Regions from separate parts of the Homo sapiens genome. Here all the other regions are linked to region 1. The links come from fine-mapping of genetic effects on gene expression. A gene starts in region 1. Each other region holds a variant in brackets. All regions are shown on one strand. Distances are between the middles of the regions. Region 1 holds the start of PCOLCE2 (procollagen C-endopeptidase enhancer 2). Region 2 overlaps PCOLCE2 (procollagen C-endopeptidase enhancer 2). Region 3 overlaps PCOLCE2 (procollagen C-endopeptidase enhancer 2).

What was found.
Region 2: its variant is fine-mapped to the expression of PCOLCE2 in left ventricle (GTEx, PIP 0.96).
Region 3: its variant is fine-mapped to the expression of PCOLCE2 in whole blood (TOPMed, PIP above 0.99). The same link has a PIP of 0.9 or more in monocytes.

The regions. Positions count from the first base shown.
Region 1 is chr3:142,885,648-142,893,831 of GRCh38, reverse strand. It overlaps PCOLCE2 (procollagen C-endopeptidase enhancer 2), which reads left to right and starts at 4,749. Exons shown (of 9, transcript NM_013363.4): 1 at 4,749-5,018; 2 at 6,055-6,163. The coding sequence starts at 4,936. LOC124909443 (a long non-coding RNA gene) reads right to left here and starts at 5,568. Exons shown (of 2, transcript XR_007096122.1): 1 at 5,373-5,568; 2 at 3,065-4,241. RefSeq lists a silencer at 4,757-4,806.
Region 2 is chr3:142,813,512-142,821,695 of GRCh38, reverse strand. It overlaps PCOLCE2 (procollagen C-endopeptidase enhancer 2), which reads left to right. Exons shown (of 9, transcript NM_013363.4): 8 at 651-818; 9 at 3,231-3,822. The coding sequence ends at 3,361. Among named protein-coding and RNA genes, the nearest start is that of PCOLCE2, 71 kb to the left of the region's middle. The variant G/C (reference allele first, on the strand shown) is at 3,467.
Region 3 is chr3:142,847,653-142,855,836 of GRCh38, reverse strand. It overlaps PCOLCE2 (procollagen C-endopeptidase enhancer 2), which reads left to right. Exons shown (of 9, transcript NM_013363.4): 3 at 7,365-7,620. Among named protein-coding and RNA genes, the nearest start is that of PCOLCE2, 37 kb to the left of the region's middle. The variant C/T (reference allele first, on the strand shown) is at 4,873.

The DNA.
Region 1 (8,184 bases):
AAAAATTAGCTGGGCGTGGTGGCAGGTGCCTGTAATCCCAGCTACTCGGGAGGCTGAGGCAGGAGAATCATTTGAACCTGGGAGGCGGAGGTTGCAGTGAGCTGAGATTGTGCCATTGCACTCCAGCCTGGGTGACAGAGTGAGACTTCCTCTCAAGAAAAAAAAAATTAGTCTGGTATGGTGGCACATGCCTGTAGTCCCAGCTACTCAGGAGGCTGAGGTGGGAGGATTGCTTGAGCCCAGGAGGTCCCAGCTGCAGCGAGCCATGATCACACCAGTGCACTCCAGCCTGGGCGATAGAGCAAGATCCTGTCTTAAAAGAAAAAAAAATTTTGGATTATAAATCTCAGAATCTTCACCTGTAAAATGATGATACTTGTTCTTACCCCGTAAGTTTGTTTAGAGAATTATACAAAATATTGTTTGTAAAGCACTTAGCACAGTTCCAGGTGTATAATAAATGCTCAGTAAAAGTCTGAGATGATGATGATAATGACGATTCATTATGGAGAGACTCCACTAAACAAAGTTTCATTCCACACCAAGAAGCAGCAGCTGATTTCCTTGTGTTCAGCTTGGCCCGCTTTCATGTGCTTGCCTTTGACTCAAACAAAATGCCTGACCCAGTCCAAGGTGGACAGGTGAGTGGAACTGGTTTCATTCAACACATCCTATTAACTCTGCAACTTCATATATCAAGACCTCCTTGGGGCTGCTTTCCTCAGCAAAGGGATGCAAGGAGACAGGCTAATTGAACTTTGTAGATCCTTATCATGGACATTAATCACACTTGTGCCTGCCCATTTTGTTTTAGTAGCCTTTTAATATTTGGAGATATTTCTATATTATGTAACCTCATCTTCTAATAGTGCTGAATTCCCAGCCTCCCTTGTGGCTGAGACACTGCAAGTCATGTGACATGGACACTACCAATCATATAGGCTTGCATGAGAGTTTGATCAAGAGATCACCGTGAGCAAAGAGGTTCTGTGATTCTCTTATTCTGTAGGAGGCAATAGGCTGTCTGGCCTTTGGGGCAGGAGTGTGGTAAGGTTGAATTTCCCAGGGCAGAAATGTATCTGAAGTGCTCACAACAGCGGTGACTGCATTAAGTTCAAGTACCTGCATTTAGTGCTTAGTCTTGGTGGCAATAATAGCAGTAGATTTCTCACTGGCCATTTCTGAGGCGAGGTTTTGGCTCTTATTCCAGGAAAATGAGCTTTGAGACTGTTTCTATGATTCTTTTGATGATAATGTGAACTTTCTGCTCTGCTTGAAATTCTGAGTGGACTCAGTTGTTTGTAGCTAAGAAACCTGACCAGTACAATTCCTAATATCTTATTCTTGGCAGAGAGGTGTGTTGAGGTGGGGCAGGGGAAAGAGGAAGGTCTACGTTTGTTCCTAATGTGTGTTTACAGACATCAAAAAACACTGAATTTTTTTTTTTTTTAGATGGAATCCCACTCTGTCGCCCAGGGTGGAGTGCAGTGCCGTGATCTCGGCTCGCTGCAACCTCTGCCTCCTGGGTTCAAGCGATTCTTGTGTCTCAGCCTCCCGAGTAGCTGGGATTACAGGCGCCCATCACCACGCCCAATTAACGTTTGTATTTTTGGTAGAGACAAGGTTTCACCATGTTGGCCAGGTTGATCTTGAACTCCTGGGCTCAAGTGACCTGCCCACCTCTGCCTCCCAAAGTGCTGGGATTACAGGCCTGAGCCACCGTGCCCAGTGTGAACTAACTTATGAACATTCCGGATTTTTTACAAGATGAGTACCGCACTATGGAATAAATGTGCAATGGATTTACACGACATTTTCAGACGTTTACAAGGTTGATGAGTGAATCAGAGATTAGCTGACAATGTTGACATATTGGGCCCAGCTAGATACTAGCATTGTGTAGCAAGGAATGTTTGAGTGGGGCCTAATTTTATAAGTGGTCAGTTCATTGGTGAATATTTTCATATTCCCATGATGCTGATTCTCTGTGCAACCTGGTAACAGCAGAGGCTGGATAATAAGGATCAGTTCACCCACCACTCCACTTTTTGTTTTAAAGAATCTACCCACAGGGCTTTTGTTCTTTTTCTCTCTCCACTTTTCTACTGCCTGTGGGGGTAGCTCCTTGTCCATTATACTAATTCTGTTATCACACAAGTCCAGAAACTGGTCTCACAGAGATGGACCTTACATATACCTTCAAAGTGCACTTGAGTCTTGATATGGTTTGGCTGTGTCTCCACCCAAATCTCACCTTGAATTGTAATAATCCCCAGGTGTCAAGGGTGGGACCAGGTGGAGGTAATTGAATCGTGGGAATGGTTTCCCCCATGCTGTTCTCCTGGTGGTGAGTGAATGCTCATGAGAGCTGATGGTTTTGTAAGGGGCTTTTCCCCTTCTCCTATCACCCTGTGAGGAGGTGCCTTCTGCCATGATTATAAGTTTCCTGAGGACTCCCCAGCCATGTGAAACTGTGAGTCAATTAAACTTCTTTTCTTTATAAATTACCCAGTCTCGGGTATTTCTTCATAGCGGCGTGAGAACAAACTAATAAAAGTCTCTCAATTTTAACACATCAACTTCTCAGGACATTTAAGGTTTATAATTTTGGTCAGAACTGTAGTTCCAAGTCAAATATGTGTTTTTAAGAGCCAATAATATGGGTTTTAGTAAATTCTAAAATCACATGGTAAAATCAATGTCTTATGAGTGTCAACAACAGAATGATTGGTGTTAAAATCCTAACTCTTTAGTGAGCATATGAACACAGTCATCAATCTATAAATTAAGAAATGGCTGTGTATTTTAGTTCAAATAGTTTCCTATTTAGGCACATTTAATACTTTGTTATTTATTTTAAATTTTGAAAACTTAGCTTAGTCCTGAATGAAGTATTTTCTGGTTTACGAGGACTGCAAATCATTACCAGAAAGTGAATTGAGCAATATTTCCCTTTATAATTTAAAACTATGACTTTCAAATAAACAATTATCTAAAAACACTTATGCTATTAGATAGCATATTCTTGAAATGCGTGCAAAATCAACAACCATTTATTCTCCTCTTCCCTGTTTTAAAGACATTTTTATTGGGTTGAGAGTGTTTCAGGATATAAAGCAGTTTGCCAAATTCTGTCACCCTTTTTTTTAATGTCATAAAGGGTGTGGTGCCTGTAGAGAAGTTTTGAAAGTTGTACTTTATGATGTTTTTGCCTTCACTTTTTAAAAAAATGGTAAGATAATCTAAGTCCTGTCCGTATATTCTGGTTCCTAGTATAGGCTTCAGGGTGCACTCACTATGAAAAGTCAGAATATTTCCTGTAGCCAGTTTTACTTACTTCCTTGCCAGGAGTGTTTAGGTTCTTTTTTTTTTTTTTTTCTTTTTTGAGATGGAGTCTCACTCTGTCGCCCGGGGCTGGAGTGCAATGGCGTGATCTCGGCTCACTGCAACCTCCGCCTCCCGGGTTCACGCGATACTTCTGCCTCAGCTTCCCGAGTACCCGGGATTACAGACGCACACCGCAACACCTGGCTAATTTTTTGTATTTTTAGTCGAGGCGGGGTTTCACCATCTTGGCCAGACTGGTTTCGAACTCCTGACCTCGTGATCCGCCCGCCTCGGCCTCCAAAAGTGCTGGGATTACAGGCGTGGGCCATCGCGCCCACCCGTGTTTAGATTCTTAACAGCTCATTATTAGAAATAAAGTCTCGATAAGAACTACTTTAATACTTAATTTTCTTGCTTAGAAAGGTGAAAACAATTTAGAAGGAACAACGTGAGGCATCAAAGTTAAGCTGTATCTCCCATAGCTGGTGATTATTAAAAATCTCTATGAATCTAGTCTGTTCCTGTCATTCTTTTATTAATCCCTGGTTATTGGGAAGCTCTTAACAAAATAAATGTTTAAAATTATATTTCTGTAATTAAGTAAAAGAGAGTATTGATTCCACAAGGCTAGAATTGTTCGTCTAAGAAAAACGAATTCTCCGTAAATTTTAACCCGTTAATACCACAGAAAGATGCTGTTGGAAAGGTCTAAGAACAGAGAGATGCAAGCAGAGAAACACCATTTTCAGAACATGACATGGGATGGTGAGATTTGCTGATTTGGTTCCGTCTTCATTATCTGACATTTAATGACAGTTCACACAGAAATCGCTCGCCTGAAAACCCGTGTTTAAATCCCGGCACAGAGACTGTCTTCCTTGTCATTGTCATACCAGTAAAAAAAAGAAAAGTATCTAGAGAGAGAGAGAGGAGAATAAGCACAGAAGTTAAAATACAATAAAATCCCTTTTCCCTTTCTTTCCTTGGATCTGGGTTTTGAAGGAGACAAAGAAGGACCCCCAGGCTTTCCAGCAGCCAGCAAGCGCTATTACTTTTTATTTAAAAGCAACTGGGAAAAACATTCCCCAAAGCAAAACCAGAAGCCCTCCCTGAGAATCGTCTCTGGGCGTCGGGGCCCGGGCCGCTGGGGTGCCACTCCGCAAGGGGTTCCTCTTCTCCCCGGGGTCCCTGAGGGCTGGACGAGAGAGGACCCGTCGGTCCCGGGGTGCCGGGAGGAGACGTTCGCCCGCCCCACGAGAGGGGGCGGCTCTGGCCTCGGAGCCGCCCCTCCTGCCGCCGGAGAACAAACGGGATATTCAGCAGTGGCCTGTGGCTGCCAGAGCAGCTCCTCAGGGGAAACTAAGCGTCGAGTCAGACGGCACCATAATCGCCTTTAAAAGTGCCTCCGCCCTGCCGGCCGCGTATCCCCCGGCTACCTGGGCCGCCCCGCGGCGGTGCGCGCGTGAGAGGGAGCGCGCGGGCAGCCGAGCGCCGGTGTGAGCCAGCGCTGCTGCCAGTGTGAGCGGCGGTGTGAGCGCGGTGGGTGCGGAGGGGCGTGTGTGCCGGCGCGCGCGCCGTGGGGTGCAAACCCCGAGCGTCTACGCTGCCATGAGGGGCGCGAACGCCTGGGCGCCACTCTGCCTGCTGCTGGCTGCCGCCACCCAGCTCTCGCGGCAGCAGTCCCCAGAGAGGTAACGCGACCCCTGCCCGGGCTCCCTTTCTCTCCTTTCCCTTCCTCCACCCCTGCAGCCTCGCCTGCTGCTTTACTCAACCCGCTTCGGCGCGCCTGGGTGACCCAGCGCTCGACCCTGCGCTCCCGCGCGGTGCAGGCGTCCGCCACCCTCGGGTAGGCTAAGCCCGGGACTTCGGGACCCATCCTTGCTCGCGGGGCTCCCTCCTGGGTCCCCAGCCCGGCCTGCCGGATGGCCCTGCAGCTGGCTTGGCCACCACGTGGCGGGGCTTAATCTGACTTGTGTCTCCCCTCTCCTCGTGTCTATGGGGCCAGAGGGAAGCACTGGGGCCCAAATATGTGGATTTTGGTTTACCGCTGTTTTTTTTCCTTCCCCGAGAGGCTTTGCCCAGAGACGTAAACTAGGGAACAACCCTAGCGGCGCGGCGCCTAGGGAGCCGCTCCGGAAAGTTAACTCTTCGCCAACCTCTGGAAGGCCCCAGGAGCTGGGCTGTGGGACCTGCCCGGTGGCCAACTTTGGCATCACCTCTTCAGCCTCCATCAACATCAGCCTCCCTTTCGATGGGAAGCTCTGCCAATGGCGAGTGATTTTCAGAAAGGGGGAGGAGAACTGGGCATCTCTCCAAATATGGGAACGACAAACTTTTTTTATATTAACCAATTGCTTGCCTGTCTTTCTTTAAAACCATGCTTCTCATTCAGCCTGGCTCTTACCTTCTCTCCCACTCCCCCAGTTAAATTGATGTATTTACCATTTTCCTACAAGACTTTGCCACAATGCCGAGGACTTGATTATACATATATATAATCTTGTGTTATTATGATGGAGACAGATGGCGCTGGACTGAATGCTTTGTCAGGCTATAATTTAAATATTCTAGGAGCTAGCAAATTTTCAGATCCCTTATATGGTGCAAGCATTGATTAATCAACATTAACTTTTATTTATATTAATAGGCTACACCTTTCTGAAGGTAACATCAGATTGTTAGACCATGTTTCAAATTACATTATCTTTTCTTCTTTTATGTTCCCAGACCTGTTTTCACATGTGGTGGCATTCTTACTGGAGAGTCTGGATTTATTGGCAGTGAAGGTTTTCCTGGAGTGTACCCTCCAAATAGCAAATGTACTTGGAAAATCACAGTAAGCATTTTTTAAAAAGGTATTCTCCTGGAAGTGGGTGTTGGCAACAGTGTGAGGCTGCTGCCTTTTTCCTCTGGTGTTAGGATTTGAGTAAGAGGCAAATGCCTGAAATAGTGAAATGTTGGATTTACCCCAACTATTGGGAAGATTTTTATTAATATAATAGATCTAGTCGTGTCCTGCATTAGTGATTACAAAGGGCACAAGATAATGCTTGAAGGAATAAATTCTCAGAGCAGATGTGTTTCTGAAAGCCCAGTGTGACTCAGTTGAGTTTTATAGATTCATAATTAAAGCTGTTTTCAGTCAAAGGCCTGTTGTAATGACCTTCATAAGTTTTTTGTTGCTCGTGCCTTCATAAATTCCCAGTGGGAAATGGAAGATCAAAGATAGTGCTTTGACTACTCTATGCTCATTAGGAAAGGAAAAAGAAAAAAAATAAAAAAAGCCCACTTAATGTTCCTGGGTTGAAACCACCTCTAAAGGCAGTCTAAGAATAGAGAATGGGGGGGTGGGAATCTAAATAGCAGCCAAGGGCCAATAAAAAGTCCATGCTGATTAGTAATAACATAGATTATGCTGAGTCAAGATAAGCTGGATTTAGAGACAGCCATATATTTTTTAACTGATTTAGAGTCAACTAGAGTGAGTCATCTTTCCAGTCAGCATAGCATTGACTGTTACCTTCTTCACTTTTTCGTTGTTGGGAAGTTGTTTAGTAATTGAATACGTTGGTTCACTGAGAGCTTCTTTCAGTCAGATTGTGCCACTGGAGGACTTAGATTTTTTAAAAAGTAGCCCCCACTGAATGTGTAAACTAGCAGTTACTGTGTGCCAGGCATTTACCATGCCAAGTAGTTAGCAAGTATAATCACCCAGAATCCTCAAAACAACTGTATGAGAAAGTATCTATTATCATCCCTATTTTATAGATGGGGAAGCTGAGGCCTGAAACAATTATAGAAATTGACTTGATCAGACAGTCGGGAAGCCCAACTTTATGTAAAAGTAAAACCTACTTTGCAATAAGGTATTCCCACTGAGGTCATTTTGCAGGCAGATATGAGAGGTCCCCTTCCATAATATAAAACTCAGCTCTTACATGCCTTGACGGCCTCTTGTAAAATGCCAACCATGTCACAAACTGGTACAGATTTCATTATGTTATTATAGCACATGTGGCCAGGAAAGAAGTCATAGAAAATAAGTTTGAAATACTATTAACATAAATGTCAAATAAGTCTCTGAAACAAAAATAAAAGCAGCTTGATTTTCATGTCGTGATTGTGTTTTAAATGTAATTAAATGGCCATAAGTTTTAAACGACCCTAGAAAATCAATGGCTCAGAGGCGTCATGTGCCCAAGTAGAAATTCATGGTTGGCCATGTGTTCTGAGTATTGCGGACAGGTTGATGTGACTTTACACTTTGACTGGGGTTGGGGGGCACGTCCAGTGAAAGCTTTCCTTGATAAAGGAACGGTTTGCCTCAGGAGAGGCATGATTTCCTGTGTGGGAGTGGGGAAGTTAAATGGATGCTCCATCTGGATGTCCTGTGAAGGGAAAGCCTGTGAGCTCAGCAGTCACTTCCCTGGATTCAAATTCCAGTTTCACCGCCATAAACTGTGTGTCCAGGATCTACCTCCTTTAAACCTTAGGATTACTGTGAAGACAAAATGAGATAGTGTAAAATGCTTCAACTCAGTGCCTGAGTGGGAAGAAGCTTGATTTGTCTGAAGAACAAATTAAGGAGGTTGGAGTGGCTGGAATGGAATGAGCAAGGGGACAGTGGGAAGAGAAGCGAAGAAGGTAAACAGGACTCTGTAGGCCACGGTGGAGAGTTTGAATTTTGTTTTGAGTAGGAGTCACTGGAAGATCTTAAGCAGAGGAATGAGCTTATCTGGTGTCTGCGTGGAAGATGAACTGTAGGGAGTTAAGAGTAGAGGCAGAGAGACCAATTAGGAAGCTGTTGTGGTATCCAGGAGAGGGAAGATGGTGGAGTAGACAAGGTGGTAGCAGAGA
Region 2 (8,184 bases), 72 kb after region 1:
AAGTTTAAGTTAATACCTCAGTTCTATACTTCAGCTTGTTAAATGAAATAAACGGAGTGGATAAGAAAGAGAATATGAAAGACCGTAGAAGACAGAGCTTTCCTGATAATTAGACAGAGGTGAGGACCCAGGGAATGAACAAAAGTTCAGGAAGAAAGGACAGCTACAGAGAAGGGTGAGGAGAGACACAGAAAGGTGGCTACACACCCACACCGACACAAAGACTCACATCTTAGTGGCCCAAACCCCCATCGCGCAATCTTTTAGCGTGGTACTGCCTCTAAAGATACAAGATCTTTTTGAGTATTCACAGGTAGAGCCTCATAAGCCAGACTATCCCCTATGTGACAATCAAGCCACAAGTTGGATAAAACGTTTTAAAGAGTTTCAACCTTGGCAATGGACCGCAGTGTGGCAAGTATTTAGGCTTCTCTTCTAGTTATCAATCCCCAACAACCAGCGTAACATCACAGCTCCAACCTGAATTTTGGTGACAAATGTACAGAAGCAAATGTGAAACCTCTATGAGGGCCTTTTCTTTAACATTAAAATGTTTCGTATCTGAAACTTAGAAGAATGTAAACTTGTTTTTCAGTTCTGCTTGCATTTGCCTTCACTGTCACATCACTTCAAAATGTTTTCTTCTGCAGTATTAGCCGGCACTGTTATCACAACCATCACTCGCGATGGGAGTTTGCACGCCACAGTCTCGATCATCAACATCTACAAAGAGGGAAATTTGGCGATTCAGCAGGCGGGCAAGAACATGAGTGCCAGGCTGACTGTCGTCTGCAAGCAGTGCCCTCTCCTCAGAAGAGGTGAGTAGGGAGAAAACTGGGTGTCTCTGAGCAAGCCATGGATTTTCCATGCCATGGTTGGTCTAGGGAAGTAAAATCAGGGCTAATATGTTGCCCACTTCTTGCAGAGCAGGAAGGCCTTTGGAGTCAGGCAGAATTGGGCTCTCATCCAAGTCCTTGTAACTTGTGGCAGAAGAAGGGGTAGTGGACATGATGAACAAGTGAAAGAAGCGTTTGAAGTTGAGTCAATAGGCAACAGACACACAGAGCAGTGCAGGGTGGAGAGATTTTAGACTATTGCACTTAAGATGCCAGTACTGTCTAGGTTTAAAGAAAAATATCCAGCAGCCAACAGGAAATGCAGACCCGAAGTTCAGAAGAGGGAGGTATATCCGGGCTAGAATCAAGATCTGGGAATCATTTGCAGAGATAGGACTATTAAGTCCATGGATGGGAGTGAGTTTATTGAAAGAAATTACGAAAAACGGAAAGTTACTCCAGAGCTAGAGGCACATGACTTTTTAAGAATATGTATTTAACAACTTATAAAAGTAACATATGTTTCATGGTTTTTAAAAAGTTGAAATAAGTAGGTAAGAGTATGTTTAAAAGTGAAACCCTTTTCCTTTCCTTAGAAGTACTCTAAAAAGTTCCTTCCAGCCAGACACAGTAGCTCATGCCTGTAATCCCAGCACTTTGGGAGGCCGAGGTGGGAGGATTGCTTGAGCCCAGAAGTTCGAGATCAGGCTGGGTGATGTAGTGAGACCCTATTTCTATAAAAAAAAAAAAAATTTAAGTTCCTTCCAGAAAGTTTCTATCCACATAAAGCATGGGCATATACACTTATGGAATCATATCACACACAAGTTCTGCAATTTTTCCCCTACATAAGCTCTAACATCTTTCCACACATACACACAGAGAGAGAGAGAGAGAAAGAGAGAGAAAGATACAGAATATCCACTTCAAGAAAGCTTTACTGTCCCAGCACTTTAGGAGGCTGAGATGGGAGGATTGCTTCAGCCTGAGTTCGAGACCAGCCTGGGCAACATAGTGAGACCTCTGCTCTACTAAAAATAAAAAAATTTAGCCGGGTGTGGTGGTGCGCACCTGTGGTCCCAGCTACTCGTGAGGCTGAAGCAAGAGGATGCCTTGAACCTAAGAGGTCGAGTCTGCAGTGAGTCATGATCACACTGCTGCACTCCAGCCTGGGTGGCAGAGCAAGACTGTCTAAAAAAAGAAAAAAATTTAAAAATAAAGCAAGCTTTACTGTGAATTCAGATTGTTCAGAAAAGTCAGGAGGCTAGTAGCCTCATGTTGAGTCTCTGGAGAGAATCACAAAGGCTCTGTAAAAGAGAAACATTTCTTTCCAGAACTGCCAGGAGCAGCAGATACTGCACCTCAAGATTCTATAAGGTCTCATAATGCTGCTAGCACTTCAGCCTTGAGGCAGCATTACCTGCCCAGACTCTCAGGCTCTCACAGACCACTGTGATGACAAGGTCCACCCACACAGGAAAATGCAAGAGAAAAAGGACACATTTTCTCTATGACACACCAGGGGAAAGGGGAACTAAAGGAGGAATTAACCCATACCTTTTTTTCTGATTTATTTCTGAGGTAATATAAATATTCAGAGTTACCCAACACCTCAGGCCCCAGTCTAGGCCTAACTTAGCCAGTCACACCAATGTATAAAAACATAGTATAACCAATATAAGTACTCTTGACACCGATGTTTTGCAAGAAACTGTACAAATGCAAGTAGTATATGATCCATCTATGCCCTCAAGAAGCTTGCGTAGCATACATGTTTGAGATGTTGATTAAAGTTCAAGACAACAGCAACATAAGAGAGTGGATCATTGGTTGCCAAATGCCAGGAAAATCCAGACACATGATGGGACTGAGAAGCCATCTGAGGATGGCCCATCATGGAGCCCTGGAGGCCCCTCGAGGAAGGAGAGTCTTTCACGTTAACGCGGTGCATTCTTCATAGCAGGCATTTGAAACCACAACAGACCTACAGCACTGCAGAGCGGGACATGGCTGATCTAACCACTCAGTCCAGCTTCCTGGTGTTAGCGTAGCTGAAATACCTTACTAGTTGAATTTGGCTTTTTGCCGATGAGAGTCTTAAAACAGATTTTATCATCCAGGCACAATGGCGTGTGCCTGTAGTCCCAGCTACTTTGGAGTCTGAGGCAGGAGAATCGCTTAAGTTCAGTAGTTTAAGACCAGCCTGGGGAACATGGCAAGACCCCCATCTCTAAAAAGCAAAAACAAGAAACCCAGATTTTATCGTGGATGGAATACATGTATAATCTTACCATTTGCAGAAGAGAACATTTATCTAGAGGTAACTTACAGTCTAAGTTGTTTCACACATGATACATAGAGAAAAAGATTAATTTCTGTATTCTCTTTCTTTAGGTCTAAATTACATTATTATGGGCCAAGTAGGTGAAGATGGGCGAGGCAAAATCATGCCAAACAGCTTTATCATGATGTTCAAGACCAAGAATCAGAAGCTCCTGGATGCCTTAAAAAATAAGCAATGTTAACAGTGAACTGTGTCCATTTAAGCTGTATTCTGCCATTGCCTTTGAAAGATCTATGTTCTCTCAGTAGAAAAAAAAATACTTATAAAATTACATATTCTGAAAGAG[G/C]ATTCCGAAAGATGGGACTGGTTGACTCTTCACATGATGGAGGTATGAGGCCTCCGAGATAGCTGAGGGAAGTTCTTTGCCTGCTGTCAGAGGAGCAGCTATCTGATTGGAAACCTGCCGACTTAGTGCGGTGATAGGAAGCTAAAAGTGTCAAGCGTTGACAGCTTGGAAGCGTTTATTTATACATCTCTGTAAAAGGATATTTTAGAATTGAGTTGTGTGAAGATGTCAAAAAAAGATTTTAGAAGTGCAATATTTATAGTGTTATTTGTTTCACCTTCAAGCCTTTGCCCTGAGGTGTTACAATCTTGTCTTGCGTTTTCTAAATCAATGCTTAATAAAATATTTTTAAAGGATTACAGAACAACCACTAAACTTCTTTTTATAGATAGTGGGACATTGTAGAAGGAATATTCCCTTTTAGCAATAAGAATAGTGTGATTTATGCATAAGATTGCCTTTGTATCAATTTACACTTTGCTAAAAGAGCATTCCAAGAATTTCAGGGACTAAATGGATCCAGTAATGTCAATAGACTATAATTCTTCTCTCTGCAGAAACAGAGAATGTTAGTGCTAGAATAACATCTCTCAGGGATCTAGTCCACACTGTTTCATTTTGTAATTGAAACGGAAGCTCAGGTATGTTTAGTGACTTGCCAGAGCACATGTCTCCTAAGAGACAAAACAATCAAGCTAAAGAGTCCTAATTCCAAACCCTTTGCCCTCACTGCCACTAGAAGAGCCTTCCCTACCCCCAGAGGAAAGCCCTCTTATCCTGATTTGAAGAGTGAAGTACTAAATATTAGTACTTAGGCTAGTATTTACTAGCCTATATAATTGGTCATTTTACAGAACTTGAAATTAGAAGTGAGCTTGACACTGCTGCCCTGTTTATCCCCAGTTAACTGGATCAGGCTGTATCAGCTAAGAGCCTTTGAGAAATCTATTTTCACTCATTAGTGGAAGAACAGCAAAAGGACCTTCATTCACATAGAGCTGCTTAAGGCACAACTATATGAGTGCAGCAACCAGCCCTGTAGGAGGTTACCAGCCAGGGGCTGTGGGAGAGCGGATAACCATCCCTATCCAAAGAAGGCTGAAAGAACATTAGGGATGAACAAAGACGTGGGTCACAAACTCTTCCACGGTAGAAGCAAAGTTTTGGAAATAAGGGAAAATACTCTTTTAGATGAAAACAATAATTCCCAGCCCTAGGATGACCAGACATTTAAAGGGTGGCAAAATAGAAGTTCAGAAGGAACTCTGTTCCCTCTGTTACGGCAGCTGGGTGAGCCTAAGGAAACGACAAAATTGGGCTGACAGGCAGGTCAGAAACTGCTCCTATACTTTCCCACTGAGGAGCCGTCAGCAGGAAGTAGATGAACTAGAAGACCCTGATGACAGTGGGTGACTGGCTTCCCTGGCCAGTGTCAGCTTTTAGAAAGTTCTCTTAGCCAGCTGAACTTCGCAGACCAGCTGCGCCCAGCACAGGATGTAACTGTGGACTCCTCATTGATTCCAGCCTTCTCAAAGCAAGTTGCTTCCCTTTAAGAATACATGTTCCGGGACTTAGGAGGGAATCCTAAAGATTTCAGTATTTCTTCTTTCTGAATAGAATCTCCTATTGGTGAATTACAAGCAGCATGCTGGCGGGTATCAAGCTTCTGCATGACCAGCGGAAAGACTTCTTCAGGTGAGTGGGGGCTTGAGTCACAGTGGGGTAAAAACTGAGAAGAGTAATCTAAACTATTCATACTATTGACATCTCTGACACAGTATTTTACAACTGCTTAGGGGATTCACGGTTAAAAGTGTGTGGCACTGGTTTGTCTTTTACTTCAGTTATTCAAAACATAGAGATAAGATGAATCGTGAAGCTGCTCTTTCTGGAATAACAACCACTTTGTAATTTCTTTCCTTTTTAAACAATCATTTTTCTATGGTTTGACTGTATCCTCCAAATTATGTGTTGGAAAGTAAATCCTCAATGCAACAGTGTTGAGAGGTGGGCTCTTTTATGAGGCAGAGCCCTCACGAATGGATTAATGCCATTATCATGGGAGTGAGTGAGTTATCGTGAGAATGGGTCCTTGGTAAAAGGATGAATTTGGCCCCCTGCGTCCCCACTCCATCCTTGTCTTTCTCTTTTGGGCATGCACATGTGTTGATGTGTTCATGTGCTCTCTTGCGTTTCCACCTTCTGCCATGGGATGATGCTGTGAGAAGGCCGTCACCAGATGTGGGCCCTTGACTTTGGACTTCCCAGCCTCCAGAACTGTAAGAAATAAATATCTGTTCTTTATGAATTACCCAGTCTCAGATATTCTGTTATAGCAGCACAGAACGGACTAAGACACCTTTATTTTGACTGAGGTTTAGTTTCCTTAGTTATAATTTGAGGGAGTTAGACTACATAACTTCTGGGATCCCATACTATTTTCTCTTTTAGGAATTGTTTATTTTTCAAGAATAGTTGATAAGGTTTTGTTTTTGTTTTTAAGTATTTATACTTGGGGAATCAAATACACATGAAGAATGAATAGGTGACCATACTAACATATCACAAAACATTTCAAAATTATAAATAAATCTCACTGTTTCAGAGCATCTTGCTAGCTTGATTTTCATCCTTTGAATTCCTGTAAATGAACATTTAAGATTTTTCCCAAGTTCCCAAGTCTTAAATTCTGTAATTTACTTCCAAGTTAACCTTAATTGGAAGACATTTACCTTCTTTTCTTTCATGTATTAATAGACTACTGCTACCAGGCTCCCATTTACTTCTGGACTATTTAAATGGTATCAACTAATGACAAAAAAAACTCCCTTAAAGAAAAGCCCTGTAATTAAACAGGCACTAATGAGAAAGTTCTAACGTGAGTTAAGTAATATTAATCAGAAACACCTTTTGCTTGAGTTCATGGATTCAAGCAAACAAATTTATATTTTTTATATAAATGGAAACAAAAAATTTGCAATTAAATTCAATTAGCAAGCAAATGTTTTTTAAAAAGATTTGACCTAAGTATTCTAAAGACCTCGTATTGAGAGAGAGAAAGATAAAAATATTAACTTAGGACTTTGATAATTTAAGTATTTACATTAATTTTTCTAGGGTAATATAATAAAATAATAATATAAATAGAGCATAAATAATATAAATAGAGCATCAACATTTAAAACCAGCAGAGGAAAAAAAAGAAGAAATTAAAGAAAGTGAAACCAGGAAAAATACAACAAAATAAGGTAAAAATACAAACATATCAATAATTTCAGTAAACACCTAAACTAAGTCCTGAAAGTTATACGTCAAAATGGTCAGACTGGCTTAGAAAAAGAAATACAGCTATGTGCTATTTGAAAGAGACATCTAAAACATGAGGACACGGAAAAGTTGAGAGGAAAGGGATAGAAAAAGATAAATACAGTATACCAGGCAAACATTAACCAAAATAAAAATGGTATGGTTTTATTAATACCAGAAAAAAAATACTTCAAGGCATTACTCAAGATGAAGAGAGTTACAAGGAGATATAACAATTCTAAATTTGCACACAGCTAATAACATCCTTCAAAATATATAACTAAATCTGATATAGTATAAATAGAAATGGACAAGTTTACCATCATAAGGGGAGGTTTTAACATGTTTCTCTCAGTATTGACAGATTTAAAAGAGAAAACATTAAAAATATAGAAGTGTTGAACCGCACAATTAGCTAGATTTACCTAACACACATATGTAGAACAGAACCAAGGGCACATTATTTTGAGCTCGTATGGAACAATTTCAGAACTTGCCATGCACCATGAAGCAAATTCCAACAAATTTCAAACAACTGGTATCGAACAGCCTTCTCTAACAGTAAATGACTAGAAATTAATAACAAAAAGTAAACAACAAAAAACAAGAAAAAAATTGGAAATTAAGAAATGTACTTTCAACTCATGATAAAAAGGAAACCATAATGGAAAACAAAATATTAAAAACTGAACAATAGAAAAACTGCATTTTAAAATGTGTGAAATGCAGCTTAAATAACACTTTAAAATTTATAATCTTACATGTTTACATTATAAAAGAAAGGATGGAAATTATTAATTTGTGAATGATACAAATTGGGAACTTAGTAAAAGGAAAACACCATAAACTTTTAAAAGGTAGGATAAAATAGCATAGAGCAGAAATTGAATAAAATTGTCATCTTAAATAATAGAAAAAAGGAAAGCCAAATGTTGGTTCTTTAAAATGACTAATATAATTGACAAAACTCTGACCAAATTAAGAAAAGCTAATTTTTGTATTTTTAGTAGAGATGGGGTTTTGCCATGTTGTTCAGGCTGATCTTGAACTCCTGATCTCAGGTGATCCATCTGCCTTGGCCTCCCAAAGTGCTGGGATTATAGGCGTGAGCCACAGCACTGGGCCACGAATAGCCTCTTTTTGACAAAGGCTCTCTGGATGTACAAGTGTGGGATTGCCCATGGATGCATGGAATCGGGTGTTCTGGGTGAGTAGCTCTGGGATATACATAAAAATTTGTTCTGAAGTATTCTAAAGTTATTATTAAAAATCCTGGTTTTGATTTTTTTGTCATTTGCTTCTCCCTTTTAAAAACAAAATCAACAATTGAGTTTAAAAGGCTAAAATTTGATTAGATATAAATGAAACATCTTTGCCTGAATGATGTCCCTGTAGCATTCTAATACTAAGAT
Region 3 (8,184 bases), 38 kb after region 1:
AGCTCTCTCTTCTCCTGTGTGGCTCTGCTGTCTTCCAACACCTCCACTTTTCTTCTACTGAATCCCCTCCTTAGAGCAAAAAGAGAACTCCAAAAGGATTGCACTGGGTGTCTTATGGCTAGGCCTGGAGGTAATGGGTGCATCACTTTCATCTACATTCCATTGACCAGGACCCAGACTCATGGCCCCAACTTAACTGCAAGAGAGGCTGGGAAATGTCGACTCCATGTGTGACCTGAGAAGAAACAAGGTTTGGGAGCATCTCCTCAGCCTCTGCCACAGTCAGGTCATGGAAAAACACAGCAAGGTGGAAGTCTGGTGACCTGAGTTCTGCCATTGTCTTTCTGGGTGGCCTTAGGCAAGTCATCATAACCGCTGTCAGCCATTTCTTCCTCCCCGTAAGGATCTTAATAATACTTGCCCTGTACTTGTGAGTTTACATTTTTATATAAAAGTATGTGCTAGTAATAGGAGTCATGGCCTGCACTATTATTTTAAGATTATAAGGATCGCAGTCATTTATTCAATGAATATTTTCTGAGTACTCATAGTAGCCAAAGCATTGGACAAACTGTAGACCCACAGACCAACTGTTCTCTGTAGCTTACATTCTGATAGTGAGACAGATGATAAATAATCTGTGAAGAAATAAGAGGGCTGTGTGATCTAAGTGACCAGGGGTGCTCAGGATAGGCTTCTCTGAAACAGTGACTCTTGAGCTGACCTAGATGATGAGGTGGAGTGAGACCCGTGTATATCAGGGAGAAGGCTGTGCCAGGCAGAGGACCAGGCTGTGCAAAGGCCCTTAGGTGGGAACCAGCTCGGAGGGCTCCTTGAACAGAAAAGTGGCATGACAGCCAAGTTGTTGCTTGAAGGAGAAAGATGAGAGATAAGGGGATATATCATGCAGTGTCTTAACCTCTCTGTGCCTCAGTTTCTTCATCTGTAAACTATAAAGTTGGGCCAATAATAATATCAACTTCATAGGGTTGCTGTAAGGGATTAAATGAAATGATACGTATATAGTGCATAGAAAAATACCTGGCACCTGATGTTCACTAAGTGTGTGAACTATAATTAAGGTGAAGATTTTATTCTAAGTGCAGTGGGAAAGTTTTGGGTGGTTTTCGGGGGTTATCTCCACTGGTGTCTTCAGGCTGGGCCCAAGGTGGATGGGAGTTTCCACGCCCCTTCTAGACATCCAGGGGTAAAGTTTTTTTAGTGAAATCCCCAAAAACAAAAGAAAATGTTCAAAACATCTCGTTATTTCTACAATCAAAATATGTTTTATTTTTTAAACATGTATAAGATTTACCTTTACAAGAGTAGTATTGAAATATACCCAGAATATAGATGAATAAGATCTTGTAAGCTTCTGATTTATCCCCCTCTAGAAAGACTGCCAAATATTTTTACATAATTTGTCTATAGATCTTTCTGGACTACCTTTGGAGGTCCATGGGAGAGGTGACACTGAGTGGTCACCTCGAGCTTTACGTAGATCAACTGTGCCTCGAGCTTTACGTAGATCAACTGTGGTCTGCATTTTAGAATGCACGTTCCCAAAGGTTTGTTTGTGGAAGAGGGAAATCGTAGAAGATTAGAATGATGGCTTAAAAAAAAATCACGTGCTGCAAAAACAGTTCTTTTTGATCAAAGTAGTAAATGATGTGTTTAGGGAGGAAAAGCTGCAGACACAAAGGAGCATTCCCATTTCTGCAGAAATGCACTCCTCCACACAGAAGAAGCTGGCCTCCTGTTTGCATTTTGCTCATAGTATCCTAAAAATGCAAACCATCAGCTTAAAATGCAGTTCCTCTGTCCTCTGGCAGGAGCCCCGGCATCGAGAGCTTTGGCACGTTTGCTTGTGACAGTGAGGACATCCCAGGAGCTGTGGGGTGAGTTGAGGTCACTGTGGAAGCTCTACGCTTTGGCCCACACGGGACTTTGCTGTTGATAGGAAAAAACACAAACGTCGAATTGTTTTTCTGCAGGCAGATAATGAATCCCCAAATCAATATAATCTCACAAAACAGTAGCTTCATCTATTTGCCACCAAAAAAGCACCTTGAGTTTCTGCATTAAGTGTTAGCATTTACAGGAGATTTGAAATATAAAGTTTCCAAAAAGATATGCATCTGCTTTTTGCAAAGAATGGCTTAGAAAAGAGAGTGGCCTTTTGGAGCTCTGCTGCCAGGCAAGGTAGGAAATATTAGAATGAAAAAGGTGGAGCCAGCAGTAGGTATATTGTCTGTGATTTGTGCAAGGAGGCCGGTGATTCATTGAGTACCTAATGGATTATTCATTTAACAAATATTTTTGATGTTAAGCTTTAACTTGGGGCCATGCCAGATCCTGGGGATGCAACAGTGAACAAGGCAGGAAGGATCCTTGCCCCCTCGAGGTTGAGCTTTATAACATGCAGTGAGTGGGCTGAGCCATCCCATGCTCACAGACCTGAGGGGAGCACTGCTAATTGGACAGAGCCCACCTTCGGGTTTGGGGGTGTTTAGGCATGTCTCCAGGAGGGAGTGACCTTGAAACTGAGACCCTAAGCATGAGTGAGAGAAGGGCAGAAGTGGGAACATGTTCCAGGTAGAAGGAATAGCTTGTGAAGGTCCTATGTATTTTTATTTTTCCTTCTTCTCTTCTTCCTCAGCCAGAAAATTCAAGGATGCCCAGGTTGTGGAGTGATATGTAAACATTATCCCATTTTCCCTTTTTTTTTTTTTTTTAAACAGGGTCTCTCTCTATTCTCCAGGCTAGAGTACAGTGTGATCATGGCTCATTGGAGCTTTGATGTCCCAGGCTCAAGTAATCCTCACACGTCAGCCTCCTAAGTAGCTGGGACTACAGGCATGCACCACCACATCCAGCTAATTTTTAAAATTTTTTGTAGAGACACGATCTCCCTATGTTGCCCAGGCTGGTCTTTAACTCCTGGACTCAAGCAATCCTCCTGCCTCGGCCTCCCAAAGTATTAAGATTACAAGCATGAGCCTGGCACCATTTTTGTTAATTTTTAAAACAACACAAAAAGTCACTGTGCATTTTGCATGGTTACATATATATAATATATATTAAAATATATATTATATACACATATACATAAATACTTATGTGTGTATATGTATATACACACATACATAAATATATATAAATACACACACACACACACACACACACACATTTTGATCAGCATGGAAGGAAACCCACTAAATTTGTAACAGTGGTTGCTTCTGAGGAAGGAGGAGGAAATGGGGCCTGGGATGAAGACAAAGGAAATCTCATTTTTATCTGAAATGTTTTATTTACTTCATTAAAGGAGACTTTAAAAATCTATTAACAAAATGTTAACAAAAGTCAATTTCGTGGTTGGTATCCAGGTGTTATATTATTCTGTGTATCTTTCTGTATTTTTTATTTTTTTATTTTTTTTCTATTCTTAACAAAGAAAATTCAAGGATACAGACTAGATTCTCCAAGTGGAAAGGCCATCTTCGGAGAATATGCTCTCTAAAGTCCTTTATAATGACAATCAGGAGCTCTTATCAAAGCTTGCATCAGAGGGCATCAGACAATCTTGATCACTCATATAAAAAATGAAGAACGGATGTTGTGTCATACTGAAAAGGCTCACAGCAGTATGCTTCTCATTTGCAATAGAATTTCTCTCTGGCCTTCAGTGCAAGATGACATTTGTCTCTGGTTATAGGAGACTTACACTGGTACAGATCACCTCTGCATCCTTCTTTCAAAAGAAGCTTTGTCGGGGTTGTTCGGGTCAGCATGTGTTCAAAATTGCAATGATGTAACCCAGTTTCTATTGCTGATCATATTTGTGTCTCATTCTCAAATTTTCATTGCCATGGGAACAGGTACAAAACTTTTGGGAACAAATGATTTATTTTATTGGGAATGAGCATCCAAGTCCTGTAGTTAATTTCAACACCTCTCTACAGGAGAGAGTCAACAGAATTGTCTACGTAGTGTCAGAGAACCAAGAACCTGCCAATGAAACATGATTATACCTCCCTATTCCTCTCCTTGATGAAATAATCTAAAAGCCTCCTGGACAGTCTTCCTCGCTTCTTGCAAATTTTAACTCCTGGTTCACTGTCACTGTCTTCAACACTCTTCCTTGTCCTAATCAACTGTAATTTCAATATCTATATGGGTGATCTTCTCAGGTCTTTAACCTCTTCTCCGCCAAATAACTTATCCTCCATAGTTCCTCAGCCTCCCACTTCCACTGTTATTTTGTCCTTACTCCACCACAGTCTTGGTTGTTACTGTCCTCACCCCACAGCGTCCTGATTTCCATCCTAACCCAGTTTGGATTCCACAGCACATCATCATGGTCACTCCCTTGCCTATGTCTTCAACTCTCTTGTCCTTCTCTCCTGCCATATCCTCCCTTGGCAAACCTCACCACTCTCCCCTACTGCTTATATCCAACTCTCCACCTGCCCTGTACCTTTGCCCACGGAGCTGAATGTGGCTGGGGAAGAAGACCACGAACAAACAAAAACAAATATCGCCACCATGCAGAGAGGTCTTAATTTTAATTCATTTACTTCAAGTGGACCCCAGCAGTCCTGGTACTCCTGCTGCATTTCATTAATCCATTTCCTCACTTTCTCTTCTGTTATCAGATTCCCAGTAGTGCCTCTCTCTTCCACATTTGCTGCTGATGACCTTGTTTTCTATTTTACTAAGAAAAGCAATCCAGAAAAAAAATTCTATATATGCTTTCACCACCTCATTTACTGACCTACCTACATCTGTCTTCCCTTCTGTCATTGGGCAAAACTGTCCCTGCTCCTACTAAGGCCAACTCCACCAGCTGTTCCTTCTGTAGATCAGATCCCC[C/T]TTTGCCTGCTCAAGGACATCTGTTAAGCAATCCTCCCTCTCTCTTGCTTCATCAGTTTTGCCCTCTCTACAGAATCCTTCCCATCAGCATGCAAACATGCCTTAGGAAACACCCATTGCAAAAACTCTGCTTAGACCCCATATCCCCTTCCTTACCCCCATATTATTCTGTTCATCTTCACAGCAAAACTCCTTGAAAAGCTTGTTTATATTTATTGTCACCATTTCCTCTCACCCCATTTTCTCATGATCCTTTTATCCAGTTTTCTCCCCATGGTGCCACCAGAACAGCTTTGTCAGCATTACCAGTGACTTCTGGTTGCTAAACTTCTGTGTTGCTAAATCCACTGGTCTTTCTCAGCAGCAGCACTTAACTCAGTTGCCCATTCATTCCTCCTTGACATACTCTCTTCGCCTGGCTTCCAGACGCCACACACTTTGGTTGCCTCCTACTTGTTGACTCAGTCTCTATTGTGGTTTGACCTCTTCACAGACTTGATGACATTGGAGTGTTCCAGGCCTCTATACTTAGACCTCTTCCTTTTTCTATCCACATTCACTCTGGGAGTGACTTCATCAAGTTTCGTAGCTTTGAATTACCCTCTATACATTTATACAAATAGTCACTATTCATGCAGGAAAAAAACAAATTAGTTTGAGATTCTTTTCATGGCTAGGACTTTTTCGGTGATTCATAGAGAGCCTGCTTATATTTAAGATTACAGATGTGGCATCATATTTTGATAACTTTCTGATTATTGTACAAATAGAGGTTGTGTGCAAAACAAAAAACAAAGCAAAAGACAGGAAGTTTTACAACAGACATCTTGGTGATAATGTTTAAAATTTAAATTGTTCTTTCTGTTATTAGCTTCTTAAGCTGTTCTAAGTTCTTTGGAACTCTGATATTCACACCACTGAGACAAGCTTCTAGGAATTAGAATGCAACGATGGCAAATCCAAACATGTCCCTTTTGGGAACTACGCCATTATAATTTCTACGATGAAGTGTAGATGTGTTTGACACAAAAAGCAAATAGCACTGAAAACACTTCATCTTACCATAGGAAAATAAAACGTATGGCACTGTACTTACCAACATGGGGAAGCCGTATTAATGTCAAAGCATCTATTGACCCTTGAGTCTGAAATAGTTAATTAAGATGAATATAAACCAACCACTTTTGATTGTGTGTGTTTGATTTTTTTAATCACTGAGTTTTGTTATATGTAAGTTTTTACAGAATGGAATTCTCCACTATTCAGTGGAGACCTCATCTGATTAAAGGAGTAAAACAATTATGATCAAGACTTTATGACTGAACAACTTGAATGAAGAAATTAAAAGGTGGTATGAACTGGGAAAGAAATGGGGCTTTGGTAACCTGAGAATCCTACCAAATGCTTTTATAGCCATTTTTTCTACCTACTCAGGGAATAAGGAAGGAACCATCATTAAGAATTTTATGGGGAAATTATGATGAATAAAATATTATGATAAAATGAAAGCTTATCTTTTTCTTCATTAGCGCATTGTGTCTCAAGGCTTCCTGACATATAAAGTCTTCACCTGGAAAACAAATGAGCAAAAAACTTAGTGACATTCAGAAGAGATGATTCAGCAATTACTCAGTTCATTTAGTCAGTATCGGTAGTTCATCTGGATGTTTCAGGACCCAAAATGAATTATCTGTAAATTAACTACACAATTGCCAAATAAATCCTCTATTTTGAACTTCATAGAAACATTCTATACACAGGCATTGAATGCGTCCTACTGTATTATTTGTAAGAAATGATTTTTTTTTTTTTGAGGTGGAGTCTCGCTCTGTCACCCAGGCTGGAGTGCAGTGGCGCGATCTCGGCTCACTGCAAGCTCCGCCTCCCGGGTTCACGCCATTCTCCTGCCTCAGCCTCCCGAGTAGCTGGGACTACAGGCGCCCCCCACCACACCCGGCTAATCTTTTGTATTTTTAGTAGAGACGGGGTTTCACTGTGTTAGCCAGGATGGTCTCGATCTCCTGACCTTGTGATCCGCCCACCTCGGCCTCCCAAAGTGCTGGGATTACAGATGTGAGCCACTGTGCCTGGCCAAGAAATGATATTTTTAAATGTTTCTTTGCTAAGCAATATCTCTAGGTATTAGAATATGCAAATATATGCTAAGGTCCAATCAGGACTGGTATTCATTCTAAGCAATGACTCATCTATTAATAATACTGACCTAATATTTTGCAGCTTTGTTGAGGTAAGTTCTTAAGGAATAAGATTGTGAATCCTGGAGAATTGCAGAATTTGTCAAAAGAAAATAAGTACTTAAATTTTTTAGGAATGCAATATGCTAGAAAACTTCCCTTGGGTTAGTTCAGATATGAGAGAGGAAAAAGCATTATCTTGGATATTATACTTTACACACTTAAGTAAGTGACTAGATGTCAAAGCCTCAGATATTGTTTTCATGACAGTTTTCTAATTGGCGCTTTTCTTGGCAGGTTCCCGAAGGAAAAGTAGTCGTTCTCAATTTCCGATTCATAGACCTCGAGAGTGACAACCTGTGCCGCTATGACTTTGTGGATGTGTACAATGGCCATGCCAATGGCCAGCGCATTGGCCGCTTCTGTGGCACTTTCCGGCCTGGAGCCCTTGTGTCCAGTGGCAACAAGATGATGGTGCAGATGATTTCTGATGCCAACACAGCTGGCAATGGCTTCATGGCCATGTTCTCCGCTGCTGAACCAAACGAAAGAGGTACTGTTTCCACATAATGGCAATAACAACAGTAATGTTGGTTCACTGTTCTTGGCACTTGATGTTTATTTACTCCTTTAAAGCTTAAGAGTGGTTCTCAAAGAGCTAGTGAATGCCATCAAACCATGATGAGACCAATACAAAAAATCAGCCTTTTAATTTAAGTCCACATGCATTCTTGTAAATCAAGTATAGAAATTCATAGAGTAAAAATGTGGAGCTTACATACATAAGCACACATGCAAATATGCAAACACACCCCTTCACCACTCCATAGTCCATTCTCCAGAAATAGCCATGGCCAGTGGTTCCCATACCTTTCTATGTGTGCTTGCTTTTATTTGAGTACTTATACAATAGCTTTTAAAAAATAAAAGTGGAGCCCAGGCATGGTGGCTCATGCCTGTAATCCCAACACTGGGGGACCAAGGGCAGGTGGATCTCTTGAGCTCAGAAATTCAAGACCAGCCTGGGCAAAATGGTGAAACCCCATCTCTACAAAAAATACAAAAATTATCTGGGTGTGGTGGCACACACCTGTTGTCCCAGCTACTTGGGAGGCTG